3 separate regions of the Homo sapiens genome follow, and regions 1 and 2 are each linked to region 3. Evidence: fine-mapped expression QTL. A gene starts in region 3. Each other region holds a variant in brackets. All regions are shown on one strand. Distances are between the middles of the regions.

Region 1 (8,338 bases), 270 kb before region 3:
CTGTCTTTGTGCAACTGCTGCAAGGCGTGTTCAGGGTTTACCACTGCAACTGGTTAATGCCAAGCCAAAAAGCCTCCGTGGAGAGCTGTATTCGGGTGCTGTCTGATGTAGGTAAGATACCAAGTCAGTTTGGATATACGTGATGAAAATGAATTGTCTGACAGTAGTAAGGCTGCCATTTATTGAGCACTCATTACAACTCTTCTAAAGTTACACAGACAGGAAGTTTCAGAGCCAGACCCGGAACCAAGGTCTTCTTGATTGCTGGGCTTCTTTTTTTATCTACCAAGCCAGCATTTCCCAAGGGAAGAGCCAGTGAGTCCTAAGTCAGATAGGCCTAGATAAACAAGCTTCCATGGTTGTTAGGCAATTCTTTGGCAAGTAACGATACACACAGCTTATTCAAGGCCCTGGGAAGTCCCTCATTCAAGAAACTAATTTGTTTAATCCAGCAAATGTACTTGACCATGTGGTAACTTTTTCCTGGAAAGCACCTGTCACATCCTAAGGAACACCCTTTCTCAGAAATGGTGCACTGCTCCCTTCTTCCCCTTGAGTAGAAATGATTCTCCATTTCCTCTGTGACTCCCCTCCTGTCCCGCCTCTCATAGGCAGCCTTTGAAAGGAAGTTAGGAAAATTTCTTTTTCCTTCATCCTGACTTTATCAGACTCCATGACTTGACCCATTCCCCACCCCCTATTAATGTTGTGCAAAGAGGTAAGCTTCCTGCCTGAAGTTGAGAAGAGAGTTACCTGCCTGGAGTGGCCTCTTAGATCCTTGCAGACAGTAACAAGAAGAGCAAGACAGGTGTAGTTCTCAGCATTATTTAGTGGCTGTCCAGCAACTGTCAATTGTGTAGGTAAGATATCAAGTCAGTTTGGATATACCTTGGGAGATACGTATAATCTATTAGGACTGTTGCCTGATTTCGGTAGTCTCTCGCCCAGTTCCTTTACTCTCCTATGGTAGGTGTTGATGTCTTTTTATTATTGGTGTGGCCGTATTTCACAGTAAGAAATTAGGTTTTGGAAAATATATACACGACAGGTTCATTGTGTTATATCTTAGAAACAGGGCCCTGCAATGAAATTCCCAGATAACCCTATACTTTTTCCATACAGGATTATCTATCAAAAAGAATGTGCCTGGTGAACTAATGTGGAAGTAGAAAGCCAAATACCACACGTTCTCACTTAAAGTGGGAGCTAAATATTGGGTCCACGTGGATGTAAAGATGGGGGACTACTAGAGGGGTAAAGGGGGAAAAGCGTTGAAAAACTACCTGTTGGAGGCCGGGCGCAGTGGCTCATGCCTGTAATCCCAGCACTTTGGGAGGCTGAGACGGGCAGATCACCTGAGGTTGGGAGTTCAAGACCAGCCTGACCAACATGGAGAAACCCCATCTCTACTAAAAATACAAAATTAGCCTGGCATGGCGGCGCATGCCTGTAATCCCAGCTACTCAGGAGGCTGAGGCAGGAGAATCGCTTGAACCTGGGAGGCGGAGGTTGCGGTGAGCCGAGATCACGCCGCTGCACTCCAGCCTGGGCGACAGGAGCGCAACTCTGTCTCAAAAAAACAAAAAAATCCCTACCTGTTGGGTACTCTGTTCTCTATCTGGGTGATGGGTTCGATCATACCCTAAACCTCAGCATTAAGCAATACACTTCTGCAGCAAACCTGCACGGGTACCCCCTGATTCTAAGATAAAAGTTGGAAAAAAGAAAAAAAAAAGTTGTGCTTGTTGAGGCCAAAGGAAACGTAGGAGGAAGCCCTTGCCACAGAGGTTAGTTTTTGTTTAATATTTTAGCAAGTGGTTGACTTGACTAGTAGCTCAGTGCTCATTAGAGAGGGGAAGTCTTTCCATTTGTCTTGGTGGTGATAAGACAAAAGACAAGGAGAGTTGATGTCTGTGGAACGGTAAGACATGAAAACAGCACTACCCAGAGTCCCCTCTGTGCCTCTTGGGGGTCGCTTCCTCATGACTAATACCACACCCAGAACCCACTGTGTTAGTTGTTTAGCTTATGAATATCCAAGGCATAGAGTTTCTAGCTGTGACGGGTGTACCCTGTGCATCCTGCTTTTCAATTGTTAATTATTTGTATTTTTCCAAATTTCCCACTTTCTATATTAGACTGTTAGAAAGTTGTTGGCTGGCTTATAGTTTTTTTTCCGCTAAATTGTGTGTGTGTGTATGTTTTTAAATGGGATTTAAATAATTGCTTCTCAGATTCCTCTTTCAGGATGTTGGAGTTGTTTTTACAATTAGATAGTTGAGTACTTTCTTTGCTTCTAGTGTTTTGAAGCATTGAAGACAGGAAATCATTGTTTTTTGGACATTTTCCCATATGGAAAAGAGTGATTATTAGTCTTAATTATCTTCCTTTTCAAAATCTTTTATTTTGGAATAATTTCAGGTTTATGGGACTGTAGCAAGGGTAATACAGAGAGTTCCCACAAATCCCTCACCCATTGTCACCCGTTGTCAGCATCTTACATTAGCAGGGCACCTTTGTCAAGGCTAGGAAACTGACACTGGTACAGTGCTATTACCTCAACTCCAGGCTCGATTCGAATTTCACCACTTTTCCCACTGCTGTCCCTTGTCATGCCCTTTTTCTGTTCCAGGATTTGGTCCAGGTACCACCTTGCATTTGGTTGTCATGTCTCTCCAGTCTCTTCTGGTCTGTGACCATTTCTCAGCCTTTCCTTGTTTCTTATGACCTTGACAGTCTTGACAAGTACTAGTCAGGAGTCCTGTAGAGTGTCTCCCATTATGGGTTTGACTGATGTTTGTCTCATGCTTAGACTGGAGTTCTCCTTTTTTAAGACGAAGAAAGAAGCACCTATCCAGAAAGAGGAGTTTATGCCATTGTGAATGCTACCTTTAGGATTATGTTTGGGATAACCCAGCATTTTTGTAGATTGTTGAACAAACCTGAAAAATAACTAGCAAATGATTCATTGGCCAAACGAGTTCCCTGTCTTGATTATTCTTAAAATACACACACACCTCAGTGACCCTAAGAAGCCATTCATTGAGGAAACCCATTGAACTTTAACTCTGACATGCCCTGGCCTTATGACCTGAGAGCATTTTAACATTCCTAAGAACTGCTTCCCCCCAGAATTCACACTGGGAAACCCTGACCTAAAAGATGGTAAAGTTGACTTGAGCTTCTCAGTCTTTAAGCTCAATACCAGGCAAGCTGGCCCATTCTGGGTGTGAAAAACCTGCTGGATGGGGACTAGGGCATTACGTCCATCTGTAGGGTGTCCCCCATAAAAGTTGTAGGCTCACGACTCATCTTTCTCCTGTGCAGCCAAGAGCCGGGCCATTGCCATTCCCGTGGACCTGGACAGCCAAGTCAACAACCTCTTTCTCAAGTCCCACAGCATTGTGCAGAAAACAGCCATGAACTGGCGGCTCTCAGCCCGCAATGCCGCACGCAGGGACTCTGTTCTGGCAGCTTCCAGAGACTACCGGAATATCATTGAGAGATTGCAGGTAATGCCTGGTGTTGAGAGAAGTGATGCTTAGCCTGGCCTCACGTGATTGCCACACACAGCAGTGCATCCTTGAGCCACAGAGCATCTAAGCTGGGCCGTGGGAAGATGTCGGTGTGCTGAACGAATAGTCAAATGTTATATATGTAGGGCCAGGAGTGGGAAGTTACTTAGGAATAGAAAAGTTCCTGAAAAGTGATGGTCTTTAAAGGTTACTCCTAGATTTGCAGATTTCTTGGTGAAAAATTGGGACTCTGCTCTTATTAGAAGGAAGTATTGAAGTATTACAGAGGATGTTTAGAGTAAGAGCATAAATGTTCCATTTTCCCCATCACTCTGGGGTTATTTAGCCTCTTGAATCAGCAGGTGAACAAGGGTGGTGATACCTGAGAGAAGAATTTTACATCAGAATGAGCCAGATGGAAACAAAAGTATTCCTTCCAGCTAGATTATTTACCTTTTTTCGTAGAATCTACCAAGACATCTGCTCTCCTTTTGTTAAAGGGGAGAGTAGTGAGTATTAGATGTTAAGCACTTAAACATGCATCTTAACATTAACGTATTTTTTATACAAGCACCTCAGTTGATGCTCTCACAGGTAGTACATAGGTCACAGTTTGAGAATCGCAGATCCTTTGAATGAGCCCACAAGCAGTGTTTAAGAGTGTAGTCTCAGGCCAGTGCCTGGGTTAAATTTAAATCCTGGCTCTGCCGCTTAGAAATGGTGTAATCTTGGGAAAGTTACTTGACTTCTCGGTCCTTCAGATTCCTAGTCTGTAAAACAGTAGCACCTACCTCGTGGGGTTGATGTGAGGATTAAGAGAGTTGATAATATGTCCCAGTTACCTGTATTTCGTGCAGTAAATCACAACAATTACCTTATTCTCTTTTGCTCTTCTGGAGGTTGACTGGGCTCCGCTAGCTATTTCTTGCTTAGAGTCTTTCATGGCGTTGCAGTCAGATAGTGACTGCGGTTGGACTCATCTTGACACCTTGCTCACTCGCATATTTGGCAGTTGATGCTGGTTGTCAGGTGGGACCTCAGCTGGAGTTGTCGACTGAAACATCTCCATATAGCCTGGGCTTCCTCACATCATGGCGGCTGTGTCCCAAGATGAGTGTGTGTAGAGAGAGACAAGTGAAAACTTTATTGTTGTTATGACCTAGTTTCAGAAGTCACATAGCGTCACTTTTACTGTACTCTTTTGGT[C/T]AAGGCAGTCTCAAAGGTTCACTCCAGTTCAGGGGGAGGGAATCTAGACCATCATTCAGTGAAAGGGATGTCAGTGTCACATTGTAAGAAGAATGTGAAAGACAGGATGTATTGTGGTATAGCCATCTTAGGAAAATAGAGTGCACATAAAACACATAGAGCAGTGCCTGGCATGTAGTGAGCACTCAGTTGAGGGCTGCTATTATTATTATTACTATTATTACTGTTGTTTACTGCTATGATTGTAATAGTTACTGAGTCTCTGTACAGTTACACAACCTACTTGAAGACAGATGAATTCGTTAAATCATTCATCAGCTCCATGCTAGGCTCTGGGGATACAGTGGTCAGCAAAACCAGAAATGATGATCTTTGTCTCATAGTATCTCAAGTATCAGAAGGGAGAAAGAGACATTAATTTTAAATATAAAATGGTGAGAGGGACAAGTGAGAAGTGCAGAGAAGTGAGGAGCGCTTGAAAGATTCTGATGAGGAAACTAATTTTGTCTGAGGTTAGGGATGAGGGTCAAGGAAGACCTTGCTGAGGAAAGTAACATTTTGAACCAAGATGAGAAGGAACAGCAGGACTTAAAGAATAAAAGGGAGGGAAACAGCATGTGTAAAGACCGTTATACCGAAAAGAAGATGAAAATAAAAGTATTACTCAATTCCAGCTAGATTATTCCTTTTTTTTCTTAGCGTCTACCAAGAGATCTGCTCTCCCTTTGTTAAAAGGGAGAGTCGTATTAGATGGGTGTTAAACACTTAAACGTGCATCTTAACTTGACCTATGAAACCCTGCTCTTATGAGCAAAGGAAGTTGAGTGTGGCTGGAGCCAGGAAGCTGGGGAGGCTGGCGGGATTTCTCGGGTCAAGTTAAGAATTTCAGCCTTTATCATAACACAACCAGTTCTTAAATAACAAAGAGAACCAGTTCTTGATTCCTGATGGAGTGCTTCCTGATCCCACTATGCTTTTAGAAAGGCGGGAGGGATGTTGTAGACTCCTCACTCCATGAGCATACAGTATTTTCTCGCCTGCTCAAATGAAACAAACTATCTGCAATCAAACATGCTGGTTTCTTGTGCTCTTCTTAGATTTATTATGCATATTCTTGGGAAGTTAAATGAAACGCGTAGGTGGGCAGTACTGTTCTAAGGACTTGGCCAGTGACGTAAAGGATTTGCATTATCCAGTTATTTACTGTCTGAGTTTTTGTGGTTGATGAGATTGCCTAGTGCAGCAAAAGTTGTAATATAAGAAATTCACTCGCAAACAGACCACTTCTATAATTAATCCCCATCTAGACATCCTTCTCACTTAATGCTAGCATCTTTCCCCGCCCATTGCTTTGCCATCTTTGTTGATGTCTCCTTGATTGCTGAATGCTATACATTTGACAGTACAATGCAAATCAATTGCAATGTAAAGTTCAAACTGTGCAAAAGATGCAGGATTTCATGAAATACATGAACATGATAAGAACAACTTTAATCCTGTGTAAATACCGTAGACAAAGATTTGCCAGAGTCAGGATCAATAACTATTGAAGAGAATATTGACTGGGTGCTTCCAAAAGGGATGCTATGGGGGGAACTGATAAGAGCCTCAGAATTTTGCAGAAATGACCCTTTTTTGACTGTGCTGTGAAAGTCAGTATGAACTAAGGGATGTTGCAAAGTACCGTCTTACAGTCTTGTTGGGAAAATTGCCCCACTCAAAATTATTTGATTGATTCATGTATCTTTATGCATCTTAAACCTTACTGAGTGATTACATTCATCACCCAAATTGTGTTAAATCTAAGATTAAATTATCTTCATGTCATTAGTTTCTGGATGAAAGATTAGTTAATTCTTTGTCAATCCCAACTGGGTCCCAATTTAAGCAGCTTTTCCCATGCAAATGTCCTTGGGTAACCAGGCCTTCCTGTATTATCCAACGTGCTGTGTTTGGCCCCTGTCTTAGCCAACATGCCTGTAGGCAGGTTCTGAGTCACCAAACCATGGAGCAGGCTTTAGCATCTTTTGAAGATAATTTCTCATCTGTTTTCTATCATTTGCCTTCAAATGGTGTTTGTTGTGTTGGTTTTGCTGCTCTTTCAACTTCTCTCTGTTTTCCTTTCCTACAGCTATGTGTTTTGCATTTGAAGACCATCATGCTATCAGGGTACATGTATTTAGCATGTTGATACAGCATGTTCATTCATTGGTGTCCTCATGTTTGTATGACTTTATTATGTGAATAATTCATGCTCATTGAAAATAAACAACACTGACAAGTATTTCTATATAGAAGAAAATCAGAATCACCTGTAATCCCACCACCCAGAGAAAACCAGTAGTAATGTTTTAATATTTGATGTTTATCCTTTAGCTAGATATTGATGATGTTTATAAAAATAGGATTATTATTGTTTGACCTTTGTTATGCCCATGTCATAGACATCTTTCCATGTTGTTAAATTGATTTTTTGCGTCATATTTTAAGCTACATGCAGTGGTACCTTGAGTAGCATAAGGGCCACCTTGAAAGAAGGGGTGGTGGGAAAGTTGACTTGTTTTCACTTTGTTTTCTGCATCAGAGGCTAATGTTTCAGGTAACCATTGGGCAATGTCTAATAATTTGAGATGCCAGACGGTACTAAAGTTACTCTAACCTAGCCTACCCGTGCATCAGTGTTTTAGGGCAGAAATCAATGTCCTCACCCTCCTGTGGTCAGCGTCTGCCTGAGCCGTTGACTGAGGCTGTGTTTCCGTTTTAGGACATCGTCTCCGCGCTGGAGGACCGTCTCAGGCCCCTGGTGCAGGCAGAGTTATCTGTGCTCGTGGATGTTCTCCACAGACCCGAGCTGCTTTTCCCAGAGAACACAGACGCCAGAAGGAAATGTGAAAGTGGCGGTTTCATTTGCAAGTAAGCGGCCTCTCTCTCTGGGGTGTTCATTTGCCAGAACCTTGATGACCTCACAAAGCTTTTGTTCCCGAAGAAGGAGACGTTGTCCTGTTTTTTAACTTTGATGAATGCAAGGTCATGTGCTAAAGTCCTGTTCTGACCTCCCCAAAGTAAGTTTGTCTATTAAATCCTGCTTACTGACACTTTTTTGTTTTGTTTTGTTTTGCTTTGTTTTTTGGTGAGAAGTTCTTATTTTCACTGCATGCCCATTCATTCATTCATTACAGTGCACCCACCGTGTGCTGTGGTACAGACATAAAAAAGCCATGATCCCTCAGCCCTCAGAAATCTCAGATCTATCGTGACCTCACCATCTTTTCCTAATAATTTTGTAATTTCTTAGTTTATGCCTTGTGCGTAATCTGTAAGCAACAAGCAGACCCATGGTTAGAAATCTCCATTAGATTTTTGCCCCAAGGCCGGACACGGTGGCTCATGCCTGTAATCCCAGCACTTTGGGAGGCCGGGGCTGGTGAATCACCTGAGGTCAGGGGTTCAAGACCAGCCTGGCCAACATGGTGAAACCCTATCTTGACTAAAAATACAAAAATTAGCTGGGCATGGTGGCGGGCTCCTGTAATCCCAGCTACTCTGTGGCTGAGGCAGGGGAATCACTTGAACCCAGGAAGCAGAGGCTACAGTGAGCCAAGATCGCGCTACTGCAC
Region 2 (8,338 bases), 56 kb after region 3:
ACACTCAGTTGTTGACTCTTCCCATTTTTTGAGAGACGCATGGAACGAGGGTTATATGTGAAATGTATCCTTTTCTTTGGTTTGTTTTGTTTTTAAACGTCAGAAAGAAAATCAGGCTGAGCGCAGTGGCTCATGTCTGTAATCCAAGCACTTTGGGAGGCCAAAACGGGTGGGTGGATTGCTTGAGTCCAGGCGTTCAAGACAACCAGCCTGAGCAATATAGGGAGACTCCCATCTTTCCAGAAAAAAAAGAAAGCCGGGCGTGGTGGCTGACGCCTGTAATCCCAGCACTTTGGGAGGCCGAGGCAGGTGGATCACCTGAGGTCAGGAGTTCAAGACAAGCCTGGTCAACATGATGAAACCCCATCTCTGCTAAAAATATAAAAATTAGCCGGGCGTGATGGCACGTGCCTGTAATCCCAGCTATTCAGGAGGCTGAGGCAGGAGTATTGCTTGAACCTGGGAGATGGAGGTTGCAGTGAGCCGAGATCGTGCCATTGCACTCCAGCCTGGGCGACAGAGTGAGACTAGGTCTCAAAAAAAAAGAGAAGAAAGAAGGGAGGAAAGAAGGGAGGAAGGAAGGGAGGGAGGGAGGGAGGGAGGAGAGAGAAAGGGAGAAAAGAAAGAGAGAGAGGGAGGGAAGGAAGGGAGAAAAGAAAGAGAGAGAGGGAGGGAGGGAAGGAAGGAAGAAAAGAAAAGAGGCCAAGTGTGGTGGCTCACGCCTGTAATCCCAGCACTTTGGGACACTGCAGTGGGCAGATCACCTGAGGAGACCAGCCTGGCCAACATGGTGAAACCCCGTCTTTACTGAAAATACAAAAAAAATTAGCCGGGTGTGGTGGAGCATCCCTGTAGTCCCAGCTACTTGGGAGGCTGAGGCAGGAGAATTGCTTGAACCTGGAAGGTGGAGGTTGCAGTGAGCAGAAATCTCGCCAATGCACTCCAGCCTGGGCGACAGAGCAATACTCCATCAAAAAAAGGAAGGAAGGAGGGAGGGAGGGAGGGAGGGAGGGAGGGAGGGAAGGCAGGCAGGAAGGAAGGGGGTAATTAGACACACACACACACACACACACACACACACACACACACACACACACACACACTTTGTGCTGGGACAAACAAAGCCTAATCTCCCAAATTCTGAGATCAAAGGGTGGGAACAGAGTTAGGTGAGCCTTTCTTTAGCTAAGCACTGCTCGCTGACGTTCTCCAAGGCATGTCATTCCTGAGGAGGGTGTAGGAAAGTAAAATGCTTTGTCTAATCAAAAGAGAGATTTGAGTATTTTTGTGCAAAAGGAGCAGCCCAAAGTGAGATGAATCTAGAGAAATAGAGGAGCAGAAAAATGTGAGGGAGAGAAAGGAGAGTCAAGGAACTTGGAAGGAGGCTGGGGCCTGAAGAAGAAAGGGGCTAGTAGATCATTCCTAGTTAAAAATTGTGTGTGGGGGCCAGGTGCGATGGTTCATGCCTGTAATCCCAGCACTTTGGGAGGCCCAGGTGGGTGGATCACCTGAGGTCAGGAGTTTGAGACCAGCCTGATCAACATGGTGAAACCCCGTCTCTACCAAATATAAAAAATTAGCTGGGCGTGGCGGAGCATGCCTGTAATCCCAGCTACTTGGGAGGCTGAGGCAGGAGAATCGCTTGAACGCTGGAGGCGGGGGTGGCAGTGAGCCAAGATCATGCCATTGCACTCCAGCCTGGGCAACAAAATTGAAACTGTCTCAAAAAAAAAAAATTGTGTGTGTGCGTGGGGAAGGCAGGGTTAGGAGTTGGGCCTGTGTTAGGTGAAAGAGATTTGGGGGTTTAGGGGTGGAGACTGAAGGGAAGGAACTGTGTTGCACCATTTCCATGTTAGAGCTGAGCAGACAGAAGTTACCAACTTCAGTGAGGTGGCTCATGCCTGTAATCCTGACACTTTGGGAGGCTGAGGCAGGAGGATCACCTTAGCCCAGGAGTTTGACACCAGCTTGGACAAGCATAGCGAGACCCTGTCTCTAAAAAAACTAAAAAAAAAAAATTATCTGGGTGTGGTGGCTCATGCCTATAGTTTTAAATCCTCAGGAGGCTGAGGTGAGAGGATCACTTGAGCCCAGGAGGTTGAGGCTTCAGTGAGTTGTGATCATGCTAGTGCATGCCAGCGTGCATGACAGAGTGAGACCCTGTCTCTAAATAAATAAATAAAAATTAAAAATTAAAGAAAAAAGTTATCAGCTGCCTGAGATGAGATGCAGTTGAGATAAAATGGTGGGAACAGGACAGGCCTGGTGACTGAAAGAACACCAAATCCCAGGAACTTCCAGCTGAGGGACTTCGCTGAGGAGGTAAGTAGGGGCCTTCAGTCATTTCTGTGTTTCAAAGAGTAGGCAAGACTCCACCCTTGGTAAAGGGCCCTGAGCCGTTACCTTACTCAGGGTCAGCTCCTGGTGCCACTGTTCACCTTATCTACCATTTGAGTGAAGTCATTTAGCATCCCTGGGCCCCAGCTTCCTTTTAAAATGGGTAATAATGACATCTGTGTCACCTTCCCTCCAGGGTTCCTGTGAGGCATAATTGGGGTATTAAATGAGAAATGCTTTGTAAAATGGAGAGCTCCAGATAAATGGGAGGTATCAGTTAACAGTTCATATTCAATTGATCTGAATGACAGCACCAGTATAATAATAACCTACAGCCGGCACTCCATACGAAGCACTTACTGTGTGTTATCTGACTGAAACGTTACAACCTTGACGGAATATTGCTGTCCTGATTACACACGGAAGAAAACGGAGATTCAGAGAGATAAAGTAACTTGCCCATGGTTACTTGGCTAGCAACTGGTAGAACCAGCCATGAATGACTCTTTTATTCTTAACCACTTTGTGTCATGTTATTTTAATAATCATTCTTAACATTATGCTAGCCTGCATCTTGAAGAATATATAATATGGCTGGATGCAGTGGCTCACACCTGTAATTCCAACACTTTGAGAGGCTGAGGTAGGAGGATCTTGAGCCTAGGAGTTCAATTCCAGCCTGGGCGACATAGCAAAACCCCATCTTTACAAAAAATACAAAAATTGGCCGGGTGCGGTGGCTTATGCCTGTAATCCCAGCACTTTGGGAGGCCGAGGCAGGCGGATCACGCGGTCAGGAGATCGAGACCATCCTGGCTAACGTGGTGAAAGCCTGTCTCTACTAAAAATACAAAAAAATTAGCCGGGCGTGTTGGCAGGTGCCTGTAGTCCCATCTACTGGTAGTCCCAGCTACTCAGGAGGCTGAGGCAGGAGAATGGTGTGAACCCGGGAGGCGGAGCTTGCAGTGAGCCGAGATCACGCCACTGCACTCCAGCCTGGGCGACAGAGCCAGACTCCATGTCAAAAAAAAAAAAAAAAAAAATACAAAAATTAGCTGAATGTGGTGGTGCGAACCTGTGCTCGCAATTACTAGAGAGGCTGAGGTGGGAGGATCAATTAAGCCTAGGAGGTCGAGGCTGCAGTGAGCTGTGATCACACCACCACACTCCAGCCTGGGTGACAGAGCAAGATCCTATCTCATACACACACACACACACACACACGGACACAAACACACATATATATTATGGGTACGGTGGCTCATGACCATAATCCCAACACTTTGGGAGGCTGAGGCAGGAGGATCACTTGAGCCTAGGAGTTCAAAACCAGCCTGAGCAATATGGTGAGACCCCCATCTCTACAAAAAAATAAAAATAAGTTAACCAGACATGGTGGCATGCACTGTAGTCCCACTCTGGAGGCTGAGGTGGGAGGATTTCTTCAGCCCAGGAGGTCAAGGTGGCAGTGAGCCGTGGATCATGCCCCTGAACACCAGCCTGGGTGAAAAAGTGGGACCCCGTCTCAAAAAAAAAAAAAAAAAATATATATATATGTATATATATAATATGTTAGTATATACTGGTAGTGGTGGTAGTGGTTCTTCACTAAGATTTTAAAATATCATTTTGGGCTGGGTGCAGTGGCTCACGCCTATAATCCTAACACTTTGGGAAGCTGAGGCGGGTGGATCAGCAGAGGTCAGGAGTTCAAAACCAGCCTGGCCAACATGGGGAAACCCCATCTCTACTAAAAAAAATACAAAAAAATGCCGGGTGCGGTGGCTCACACCTGTAATCCCAGCACTTTGGGAGGCCGAGGCGGGTGGATCACAAGGTCAGGAGTTCGAGATCAGCCTGGCCAACATGGGGAAACCCCATCTCTACTAAAAATACAAAAATTAGCCAGTGTGGTGGTATGCGCCTGTAATCCCAGCTACTTGGGAGGCTGAGGCAGGAGAATCGCTTGAACCCAGGAGGCACAGAGGTTGCAGTGAGCTGAGAACGTGCCATTGCACTCTAGCCTGGACAACAGAGTGAGACTCCATCTCAAAAAAAAAAAAAAAAATTAGCCGGGCATGGTGGTAGTCGCCTGTAATGCAAGCTACTTGGGAGGCTGAGGAGGGGAGGATCACTTGAACCCGGGATGTGGAGGTTGCAGTGAGCTGAGATTTCACCATTGCACTCTACCCTATGTGACAGAGCAAGACTTGGTCTTGAAAAACAAAAACAAAAACAAAAACAAAAAAAACCCATCATTTTGGTCTTTCATTTGAAATCTCTCTAGTAAATACCTATTATGTGCTATGTATTTGGAACACCTCCATGAGCAAAAGACACAGGGTCTCTTGCCCTCATGGAACATACAGGGTAACAATAGAAAAAAGGTATTAAACAATTACAATACTGGGTGCCAAAGGGGAGGTACTTTGGGTTCAAGGAGGAAAGGACACCTTAGCTGAGGCCTAAAGAATCAAGGAAGGGTGGGAGAGTGTTCCAGGCAGATGAAATAAATAGCAATGAGAAG[G/C]CCAGGAAGCAGAGCATGCATGAGGCGATGGAGGAAATGAAAGTAATACCCTGTGGTCCACTTTGGAGGGTGGGGTGGGCAGTGGTGAGAAATGACACTGGGGAGGGGGTCTGGGACTAGACTGCACAGTGGCCTTGTGAGTCATGTTGTCATATATAAATATATAACATATATTTTATATATAATTTATATATTTTAGTTATGCATTAATATTTATCATATGTAATTTTATATGTGTATGTATTACCTATAATATGTATAAATGTATGTATACATGTGTATCTATGTAATTTTTCCTTAGAAACGAAACCAGTTTGAGCCCCACTAAAAAAAATTAAAAATAATTTAAAAAAACCTAAACCATAATCACGCATAATACTGTTTCTTTTCTTTTTTTTTATACTTTAAGTTCTAGGGTACCTATGCACAACGCGCAGGTTTGTTACATATGTATACATGTGCCATGTTGGTGTGCTGAATCATGCATAATACTGTTTCTTAATCCTTATTGAGATAAAATTGACATACAACAGATGACGTGCATTGAAAGTCTACAATTTGATGAGTTTTGACATTTGCATGCACCTGGGAAACCATCACCACAATCAAAGAACAGAGAACTCCATCAACCTCAAAATTTACTCATGCTGGGTTGGGCACAGTGGCTCATGCCTGTAATCTCAGTACATTGGGAGGCTGAGGTGAGAATTGCTTTAGCCCAGGAGTTCGAGACCAGCCTGGGCAATATAGCGAGACCCTGCCTCTACAAAAAATACAAAAATTAGGCAGGCGTCGTGGTGCACACCTGTAGTCCCAGCTACTCAGGAGGCTGAGGTGGGAGGATTGCCTGAGCCCAGGAGGTCGAGGCTGCAGTGAGCCTTAATAGCTCCACTGCACTCCAGCTTGGTTGAGAGTGAGACTTGGTCTCAAAAAAAAAAAAAAGTTTACTCATGCTTTTGTGACACCTCACTCCTGGCCCTCTCAGTCCCCTGGCAACCATCCTTCTGTTTTCTGTTGCGTTTTCTAGAATTTTGTAAATCGAATGTATCATGTATATGAAATCATATAATCTGTACACTTTTAAAACGTAGCTTCTTTCCCTCACATAACTACGGCGAGAGTCATCTGTGTCACTGCACATGTCAAAGGTTTGTTCCTTTTCGTTGCTGTAGTATCCTGCACTGTTTTGAAACCTGTTTTGTTCCTTAATATATCAAGATAGCTGGGATCTAGGTCAAACTGCCAAAGTTGAAATATCAGTCATGCTGTTTATAAGTGGGTGAGTTTGGGCAAGAAACCTCGATATGTTACCCAGTTTCCCTTGAGCTTAATGGCCATGTCTGTAAAATGGGCTAACAGTAATAGTCACAAGGGAGGCAGGTTGTGTGAGATGATGTATATGCCTGTGTATAGCAATTGCTCAATAAAAGTTATCAAGAATATGATTGCTATTACTACTATTACAATTCACACCTGGAGCATTTTAAGAAAACATCAGACACAGTCGTGGAACATGGATGTGCCCCTGAGTGTAGGAGGGAGAGAGCCGGGGCCAAGTTCCCTTCTGATAACATCATGGGCTCCAAGGTGGCCATGGCTGGTTCCTTCACCCTTTTGGTCCCCAGATTCTCCTTCTAGGGAACAATGGCATCCAGAAGTGGGGGTTGGGTGGAAAAAGAGATTAGAGAGTCTCTACAGACAAGAGAAAAGGGAAGCTAGCTCACTGCAATCAATTTGATTACCAGGCAGTCATGCCTCCTCATTTGAACCCCAAAGACCCACGTCTTCCTCGATTGCTCACTCAACTAACAGATTAAATCATCTCTAACACGCAATGACTGTGTTATGTTTAAAAAGAAGCGTTTCCAAGGCTCACATACAAAGGAGGTGCCCGCCTTGTGTCTTGACCACAGTGATATAAAAATTAACTGCATTGATCATATCCTTCCTGGGCTCCACTTTATCATCCTTCTGGGCTAGGTGGTCAGTAGCAAAGAGAGCCATGGAGTCGCATAGAAATATACCCAGCCACCCCAGCTTTAGAGTCAGGTGAGTCCTGGGTTCAAATCCCACTCCCACCGCATGTTAGTACTTGTACCTGAACCAGTTACTTGAACTCCTCAAGGGATCATATTTTAAATGGGGATAAACATGACGCCTCACATCATGGGTATGTCGTGAAGGCTGAAGCACAAGTGGAGTGGACAGTCCTGAGCATAGTGCCTGGCACAGGGGAAATGCTGCACATAGGAAGTAAAGGGGTTACCGTCAACCTCTGAGCGTTGCATGTGTGCATGTAACGTGTGCGTGTGCATGTGTGTGTTGTGTGTGTGTGTGTGTATGTTTAAAATAAGCATGTTCTCTAACTCTAAGCCTTCTGTCTTTATGGTCCTCCTGAAATCACACCTTGAACAGCAGCCTGCCTATTTTAGGCAGCTCACCAGCTGGACGTGATGTCCCATGAGCAACAGTCAGAAGGAAGTGAGGATGTGTAAGCTGGGAGCTAAGTGGGACATGATCATTGTCATCAGGAAGGGCTGCCATAGGAAAGGTGCTTTAATTCACACTGTTTCAACCCAGAGGACTAAGACCCATGGGCGAATGCCTCTAGGAGGCAGAGGAACAACTGTCTTGCAATCAGAGAAGTCAAAAAAAAGAAGGGGACTGCCTCAAGGCTTACTCAGCTGCCTGTGTGGATGTGTTCAAGCTGAGGCTAGGTGACCAGGTGTCAAAAATGTGGTCAAAGTGATTCCTGATGTAGGAAGTTGGACCAGACGAGTAGCTTTCAGCTGGATACAGAGGAGGTGGTGGGCAGGGCTCGGGGTCTCCACACTCTTACAGCTACCACAGCACTTCCTCTTTTGTCTGTTTTATATATTTGGGCTCCTGAAGATTTGAAGATTTAGCTATTTAAAATAAGAGGTTGTGGTGTTTTTTTTTTTTTTTTTTTTTTTTTTTTTTTTTTTTTTTTAAGCCCCTGGCCTGGATGACTTTTTGAGGCCTCTTGGAACTTTGGGGCTCCAAGTCGATGATTCAGAATTGCCTGTGACCTTGTGTATTTGTCAGAACTCTTTTTGGTTGCAAGTGTCAAAACTCCTCTCAATGTGGCTAAAGCAAGAAGTGGATTTAAGTAACTTGAGAAGCCTGCAGGGCTGTTGTGGTAGTTCGCAGAACTGGAAAACAGAGTGCAGCAGCCATGGCCTCCAGGACTAGAACCAGCAACCCAGGGCTGCCCAGACTCTCTTTCTTTGTCTGGCTCTTGGCTCTGCTTTTCTCACTTCTCTCTGAGTTGGCCTCTGGGGCACATGGCAGCCAGCAGCCCCAGTTGTGGGAAAGGGATTTGGCTCAGGTCATCCATCTGGGCCCACATTTTGAGCTCTCAGTTACCTCTGGCAATTTAGAAGATGGAGAAGTGGGTCAAGTTTAAACAAACAAACGAAAAATGGAATAGGGGAGCTGGGAGTGGTGGCCTTT
Region 3 (8,338 bases):
AAAATGACAATAAAATATTATTTCATACCCATTAGAATGGCTAAAATTTAAAAATCTGTCTACCCTAAACGTTAGTAAGGTTGTGGAGCAGCTGGAATTCTCATACATTGTTGGTGGTATTGTAAAATGGTAACACCTCTTTGGAGATCTGTTTGGCAATTTATAATAAAGTTCACATATATTTAATCTGTGACCCAAGAATTCCACTCCTAATATTTATCCAACATAAATGAGAACATACGTTCACAAAAGAACTTGAACATGAATGTTGATAGCAGCTTCATTCATAACAGCCCCAAACTGGAAACAACCTGAATATCCATTAACAGGGAACTAGATAAACTGTGCTATATGTGTATGATGAAATACACTCAGCAATAAAAAAGAACAAAATTCTAATACATGTGCTAATATGGTAGGATCTCAAAACTATATTGACAGAAACTTTGAAGAGTACATTCATTTATACGAATCTCAATAATGGACAAAGTTAATCTATAGTGATAGAAATCAGAAAGTAATTGTGGGGGTTGGGGGATTGATTGGAAAATGATATATAAAGAAACTTTCTGGGGTGATAAAAGTGTTCTGTATCTTGTGTGGGGCAGTGGCTACATAGGTGTACATTTACCAAAAATAATACACCAAACATTTAAGATCTGCATTTTATGTTTACCTCTCAATTAAAGAATTAAATGCCGTTATTTTTTAAAAGAGCAGAAAATGAGAAGGTTGATTATAAATAGGGAACAAAGGTAGGAATTAACAGATGTTTTCCTGAATGGAGACCTCTATACCATTGAGTCCAACCAGAATCAGCAATTTTATTTAACATTTTTATAAGTTATTTGGAAGATCTTCAAGTGTGCAGATGCCACTGATCTCTTTCTGGTGGGGCCAAGCCAAAAATACAACACTATCTCTAGAGTAAGGCAAGTTTTTATTTTTTATTTATTTTGAGACGGAGTCTCACCCTGTCGCCCAGGCTGGAGTACAGTGGCATGATCTCGGCTCAATGCAACCTCTGCCTCCTTGGTTCAAGCGATTCTCCTGCCTCAGCCTTCCAAGTAGCTGGGACTACAGGCGTGCACCACCATGCCCAGCTAATTTTTTAATTTTCTTAGTAGAGATGGGGTTTTACCATATTTGCTAGGCTGGTCTTGAACTCCTGACCTCATGATCCACCTGATTTGGCCTCCCAAAGTGCTAGGATTACAGGCGTGAGCCACTGTGCCCCACAGGCAAGTTTTTAAATTTCAGGTCATGATCCATTGGTGAGTGGTGAGATCAACTTAGTAAGTCATGACCTGAATACTTTTAATAAAACAGATGAGACTAAACTGGAAAGTATCAGAATGTATATAATAACAGTGAAATATTGTTCTGTGAAATTTTTGTCTGAAATGCATTGGATTGACTTTTTTTTTTTTTTTTTTTTTCCTGAGACGGAGTTTTGCTCTTGTTGCCCAAGGTGGAGTGCAATGGTGTGATCTCGGCTCACTCACTACAACCTCTGCCTCTTGGGTTCAAGCAGTTCTCCTATCTCAGCCTCCTAAGTAGCTGGGATAACAGGTGCCCGTCACTATGTCCGGCTGATTTTTGGTATTTTTAGTAAAGCTGGGGTTTTACCATGTTGGCCAGACTGGTCTCGAACTCCTGACCTCAGACGATCCGCCCGCCTTGGCCTCCCAAAGTGCTGGGATTACAGGCATGAGCCACCACACTCGGCCTGATTGACTTCTTTCTAAGTGGCTCAATTTTTTCTTTTTTCTTTTTTAAGAGAGCAATGGTTACTCAGGAGTATAGGAGAGAGGGTAGCGGTCACTTATTGCTATAGCCCAACCAAGCTTTGGCTGCCCTATGCTTAAATATACTTAAGATGTGTGTAAAGACATACGTGTGTGTATTGAGACATGATGTAAAATGTATTTCTTACCGTGAGCTGAGATAAAAATTTTTGAGGCTTCATAAGCAGGTAAAAAGTGATATCTGAGCAAGCAAGTTGTGGGGATGTATAGGGGAGCTTGGGGCTCTAAATTCTTGCACAGGAAGGGCCCGGGAGTTACTATAGATAGTAACAGTATAGACTCATTCAGCACACAGTGTAAGGCCACCAAGATGCTGAGTCCCAATAGGAAAGAAGAGAAAGATCCCATCTTTCTCTTGTACGAAATTATGTTCTCTCCCCACTTAGAAGAGACAAAACAGCAGGGACGGCTACAAAATGGCAGGATTACCCAGTGCAGCTGCTCAGTGCCACATTGCACAACTCCAGAGGGTGCTCTCACACAGACTGCAATGTGAATAGCTCCCCCTGGAGTTGAGCGGTGCACAACCCAAACAACCCTACCAGGCAACCGTAAGTATAGTGATTAAGAGCACAAGCTTTGGAGTCCAACAAACCTGGGGGCCTGTCTCAGACTGAATCCCAGACTATATAACCTGGGGCAGGTTATTTAGCCTCCTTGAGCCTCAATTTTCCAAACAGAATATGTTATACATCCCTAGGGCCTATTTCAGTGTCTGGCATTGAATAACAATAAACACGTGTCAAATGCATCGAGCTAATACTAGTACCTGCCTAAAAGGTGGTGGTGAGGAGCAAAGAAATTGACATACGAAAGGTTTTTAATATCTACAAAAGATGACAGACTGAAATAGTAACATTCTCCAGGATGGAAAGATCTATGCCACGTAGGAATTGTTTGTTCAAATTATTATTTTTTAAAAGCCATAAGCTATGGAGAGAATAACAGAGTTTTGTTTTGTTTTTTAATCCTGATACGGTGGAAGTCTGGTAGGATGGGAACCGTTCTTGAAGCTTGAGAATACATTCGGAACAAATAAAAAGTAGGAAATGCATACATTTTGTTATTTACAGTTGTAGGGCAGGTAAGGGCAAAACGTATTGATAAACTCAAAGAATTTTAAGAATGATATTGTCATGAGCCATGAGCCATGGAAGCTGCAAGGTTTGGGCTCCCTCCTGCCATCGGGTGGGGGGTGTCGGCGGAAGGGGGTACGTGTCCTGTCCTCTCCCAGTGCTTATTTCCTGCTGGAACCGTGGTTTTGACGCAGCCGTGACAGCCCTTCATCCTTATTAAAATCACACAATGAAGCAGGTCGCCCAAGATTGAAAGCGCGTTTCCAGGGCGGACCCCGGTCCCCGCCTTTGGCCAGCAAAAGTACATTCTGGCAGGGAGGGATCTCTGAGCCCCGAAGTGAGGTCATGCCAGTTAGCAGTTAGAAAAGGAGGCATTTCTCACACTTGCTAAAGAGTTTGACGCTTGTGAAATATAAACAGGAAGCGGGAGCTCTCCAAGGCGACCTGAAGGAAATACACTGCCAGTTTGGTCAACTTGTGAATGCCAGTTCTCTAGGTCGTCAAGGGCACTGCCAGTTAAGACTGATCCCCTAACTGCACCCGAGGCTACTACTCTTCGCCCAGTCTCGGCAGTGACCCCATTTTTTTTTCAATCCTTCCCACAGCCAGGTCACTCAGCAGTGGGGTGACTGACCCGAAGCGCAGTGGGAAGGGCTTACAGTCATCTCTCAACTCCCCGAACTTGCAGGGCAGGGGAGCGCAGAGGTCAGTGAAATCCCCAGCCAGGCCTTATTTTAGTCATGAGTTTCCACTGGCTCCCTCCTCTGACTGTATCAGCGCTGCTCACACCGCGGGATTGGAGTTTCAGCTGTTTTCCCTGCTCCCGGCTGAGTGAGAAGGTCACAGAGCCCGGACCTTTCCGGGGGAGGTGGGTGGGGCCCTCCGGCAGCCTAAGTGAGATTGCAGAGATCTGGGGCCGCTGGAGGAGGTCCTTCCGCCCCGGGCTTGGGGCTTTGGGTTAGCTTCTCCCCCGCTTCTCTACCTAGGCATCTCGGTTACAATGAAATTAAAAACAAAACACAAAGCAACACAAGTTCTCATTGTTTTTCCCCTCTGTCAGCCAGTGGCCTCGATACAATTTTCCCAGGGCTGCCTTTCCTTTATTGCTCAATTTAACCTCTTCCTAGAGGTTCTGCAAGTTCAAGGGCAGGATCCGTGTCGGATTCATCAACTAGTGCAGCGCCTAGTGCAGAGCAGGGGGCTCAAGAAATACGTGTCGACCGCATGATTGCTAAGATTTCCCTGTAACAGGCGGTTTTTTTTTCTTGTCTCTCTCATCCCTCCTGCCCTGGGTGCAGACCGCGAACAGCGCCGCCGAACTTCCCAACAGGCAGGGAGAGGGCCGATCCGGGCTGGCACGCCACGTCCCCGGGGTCTCAGTCCCTGGGTCAACGCAGAGAGGCTCGCGGTCCGCGGTGCTACGACCTGAGCCCGGCCACGTGAAGCGTCACGCCCTGCGCTGCTGCAGGGCAGGCGCCGCCGCCGCGGTTGTGTAACGCTGCAGCCGGAGGGGAGGCGACCGGGGCGCCTCTGCTCCGGAGGGGGCAGAGGAGGGAGGGAGCGCCGGGCACAGCGCCCGGTATCTTTCTGCGCTTGACTGGCCGGGAGGAAGGGGGTGACACTGGGGCACCCAGGGGGCTGCGCAACCGGGTGCCCGCCCGCCCGCAGGTTGTGCCCAGGAGCGGAGCTCCTGGGAGCGAGGGGCCCTCGGCTCACACCCTCCACGGTCAGGTGCGCGCGGCGTGCTCGGCGGCAGCCTCAGCTGCCCCTGCGCTTGGCCGTCGGCCCGCTTCCCATGGGGTGACATCCGCCCCGCCCCTCGGTCCCTCCCCAAGGCGGGCAATTCCTGGACGCGAGGGTGAGCAGTGGGGGCAGGGAAGCCAGGACGGAAAGAAACCCCAGCCTCTGGGGAAGGCTGGGGGGCCGGGCGACTCCCTCCGCAGCGCGCCGGTTCCTCCAAGCGGGCCGGGCGGGGGAGGAGGAAGAGGGCTGGGCTGGAGCTAGCAAGGGGATATTCCTCTCCCGGCTTGAGTCAGACGCGGGCGGATCCGTCCTCCCCCGTTCCCTCCCAGGAGACGGGAACTTACTTCATTTCCCTGGGGCAGGTTCGCCCACGTTACCAACTTCTCCCCCTCCCCCAGCACCCCCGTCCCTTCCAGCTTCCGCGCCCCCCACCCAACTGGGCAGGACCCAGGTCGTGCTGCCACCCCCTCTTCGGGGAAAGGCGGCCGCAGCCGCAGACACCTGGGGGCCGGGGCTGGGGGTGGGGGCTCCCTAGCAGCCGCCGGAGCGTTGTCCAACACGTGAGACTCATGTGATGAAGCCGGGGGAGGGCGGGCAGGTCGCTCCTTCCCTCCCCGGCAGTGGCCAGACGTGCCTGGAGTCACAGGGTAGAACACGTAGCTCCAACCCACCCACTCGCTCCCATTTAACCCAGCCCGCAGCCTCTCCATTACTCCTCGGCTTGCCCCCCCACCCCCCCACTCCGCCCTAACCGCCCCCCCCTCACCCGCTCCCTCCCGCCTCCCCGCCCGCCCCACTTCTCATTCACTTGGCTCGCACGGCGCAGACAGACCGCGCAGGGAGCACACACCGCCAGTCTGTGCGCTGAGTCGGAGCCAGAGGCCGCGGGGACACCGGGCCATGCACGCCCCCAACTGAAGCTGCATCTCAAAGCCGAAGATTCCAGCAGCCCAGGGGATTTCAAAGAGCTCAGACTCAGAGGAACATCTGCGGAGAGACCCCCGAAGCCCTCTCCAGGGCAGTCCTCATCCAGACGCTCCGCTAGTGCAGACAGGAGCGCGCAGTGGCCCCGGCTCGCCGCGCCATGGAGCGGATCCCCAGCGCGCAACCACCCCCCGCCTGCCTGCCCAAAGCACCGGGACTGGAGCACGGAGACCTACCAGGGTAAGTTGGCACTCCTTGGCCCTTCAAGCCTCAACTGCAGCCCCATGTTATGCGCCACTCTCAACTTGGAGCAGCTCCGGGCGCACCGGGAGGTTCTTGCCCGGCAGAACGCCTGCAGCCGTGCGCAAGCAGTCACGACCCTTCCTGGTCTCTCTTCCTGCAGGATGTACCCTGCCCACATGTACCAAGTGTACAAGTCAAGACGGGGAATAAAGCGGAGCGAGGACAGCAAGGTAAGCAAGTGCACCCCTAGGGACCCTGCGCTCAGCCCCTCGCGCGCGCTGAGTTTCCAAGAAAAGTTTTCTCGCTTTGAGGTTGGCGAGGGGATGCAGGGTGTGGGCTCGGTGCCTCTTCTGAGTGACTTGGAAAAGAAAGGGCAGACGATGGTTCTGGGTGCTACTCTGCTACTCTGCTCCTCTGCCGGACTGTTGCTGCGGGGCTGGGAGGATAGGCTTCTCATCTCCTTCCCCAAGCGCCCACCGCCTCCCCGTGCGTCTTGCAGGAGACCTACAAATTGCCGCACCGGCTCATCGAGAAAAAGAGACGTGACCGGATTAACGAGTGCATCGCCCAGCTGAAGGATCTCCTACCCGAACATCTCAAACTTACAGTAAGTGAGAAGCTGGCCCCTTTCCAACCCAGTCCTTTGCCCAGAGGGCGGGCGGGTCACTCGCCGCCTGCAGGTTCCGCGGGGAACTGCAGACCAGACTGGCGGATCAGAGCTGGCGGGTGGCTCTGCGGTGGGGTCCTCCTCCACAGTCCTGGCGTTTTCTGGCTGACTCATGCAAATGAGGCGAGAACCACTTGGACCTCTCCAAGTTGGCTCCAACACCAACTGGCCTTCCTTTTCAGGAGTTTAACTTCTGGTGATTTTCAGGATTCCCTAGTTTTTCTCACTTAAAGGAACACGCCAAGAAACACACACATTTTATTTACCCCTTCCCCTCTACCACTCCCCCCACCTTTTTTGTTGTTGTTGTCAAATAAGGGGACTTGCTTTGGTGTGTGATTTTTACGGCCTGTCCTTTCTTGACAGTAGCCCTCGGCTACTTCGCAGCCTTTGGTTGGGGAAATGGAAAAAAAAAAAATAGTATTTCGGGAGGAACAAAAAAGCCTGGATGAGCTGGAAGTTCTGAAAGGGTGTAAGGAAAGAAGTAGGGAAAGCCTCTTGGCTGCCAGACGTAATAGAGGTCCCTCTCTGAGTTGACACCACTGCAGGAAAATGTTATCTCTGGATTCCCCTGAGTTAAGGTCGGCAGAGGCTGCTGGAGAAATTTATCTGTCAAAGGATTTTCCTGAGGTAGTTGCAGCTTCCAAAATGCCTCCAAAGACAGGTGGCACCCGTTTTTTTAAATTATTTAATTATATATATATATTATATATATATACACACACACACACACACACACACACACACACATATATGAGTGTATCTGTCTATCTTTTTAAAAGCATGACCTACAGACTTAAAACAGCCAACCAGGAAACACTATTCCACTTTTTTTTTTCTTTTCTCATTTCTCATTGCTAATAAATGTCCCAAAGGTGGGACTTCTCTGACCTCACCGCTGACTAAGGCTCTTTTCCTTCCAGACTTTGGGTCACTTGGAAAAAGCAGTGGTTCTTGAACTTACCTTGAAGCATGTGAAAGCACTAACAAACCTAATTGATCAGCAGCAGCAGAAAATCATTGCCCTGCAGAGTGGTTTACAAGCTGGTGAGTGCTGATTCTGGCTATGCTCTCTTTAAGAGTTTGAGTGCAAATAGAGAGCCCGTGGGCTCAACATCTGATGTAATAAACATTACTGCAACAAATTGCTTATGCACGTTCATTGGGGGAGATGCAGTTTTATCTTTCCTAAAAGGTCAGACTTTTCATTTGAAATGCATTGTGCCACCTGGCATGAATACGTATTAGTGAAATGATAAGATATTCCTGTGGCATTTTAGCTTGAGAGTCTCTGGGTTCTGGGAGATTTCCCTACTCCCTTTTAAAATGCCAAGGCACCTATAATTTGCATTGTGGGTGTTTTACAGTTGGTCTTCTTAGCCCTCTTTCATTGGAGAAGAAATCATGGGTATGCCCCAGCGTTTTCCTGTTTCTTTGCTTCCTTGTCACTTGGTGTGTGGTGTGATCCTGGCAGGATACAGCAGGAGTTTTTCCTGCATTTCATGTGGTTCCCTGAATAGCCACTAGGTATCTTGGTGAATTGCACAATCTAGCGAAACCACTGAAGTTTCATCATTCGTTTCTACTGACTTCCAGATAATCGGAGTCAACCTTCTAACCTTCTAGTCTCACTTCTTCCAAATAATACTGTACAGACTGGGGAGAATTATTCTACCCACTCCCTCATTTCATGCTTGTCTGCCTTCCTCTCGAAGGCTCGTATGATGAAAATTGCAAAAACCCAGCTAGTGCTTCTGCCTGTTTCCTCATTCAAAATAGGAAGATGGTCATACCTAATGTCTTGAGGATCATGGATAGAATATGTGGAGAAGACATAGAAATAGCCTAATTAAAGGTCACAGCATGACTGCAACTTT

The links.
Region 1: its variant is fine-mapped to the expression of BHLHE40 in fibroblasts (GTEx, PIP 0.90).
Region 2: its variant is fine-mapped to the expression of BHLHE40 in whole blood (TOPMed, PIP 0.91).

What each region holds. Positions count from the first base shown.
Region 1 is chr3:4,702,840-4,711,177 of GRCh38, forward strand. ITPR1 (inositol 1,4,5-trisphosphate receptor type 1) reads left to right here. Exons shown (of 62, transcript NM_001378452.1): 36 at 1-111; 37 at 3,328-3,512; 38 at 7,486-7,634. LOC124906210 (a long non-coding RNA gene) reads right to left here and starts at 7,513. Exons shown (of 3, transcript XR_007095797.1): 1 at 7,430-7,513; 2 at 4,390-4,613; 3 at 2,385-2,850. The variant C/T (reference allele first, on the strand shown) is at 4,722.
Region 2 is chr3:5,030,409-5,038,746 of GRCh38, forward strand. No RefSeq gene overlaps it. Among named protein-coding and RNA genes, the nearest start is that of BHLHE40-AS1, 55 kb to the left of the region's middle. RefSeq lists an enhancer at 1,240-1,741. The variant G/C (reference allele first, on the strand shown) is at 4,865.
Region 3 is chr3:4,974,008-4,982,345 of GRCh38, forward strand. BHLHE40 (basic helix-loop-helix family member e40) reads left to right here and starts at 5,430. Exons shown (of 5, transcript NM_003670.3): 1 at 5,430-5,791; 2 at 5,955-6,024; 3 at 6,294-6,401; 4 at 7,385-7,508. The coding sequence starts at 5,712. It overlaps BHLHE40-AS1 (BHLHE40 antisense RNA 1), which reads right to left and starts at 5,954. Exons shown (of 3, transcript NR_125916.1): 1 at 5,788-5,954. RefSeq lists enhancers at 3,652-3,841, 3,962-4,011, 4,142-4,261, 5,562-5,711, 5,819-6,413 and 1 more and silencers at 4,372-5,141, 5,352-5,411.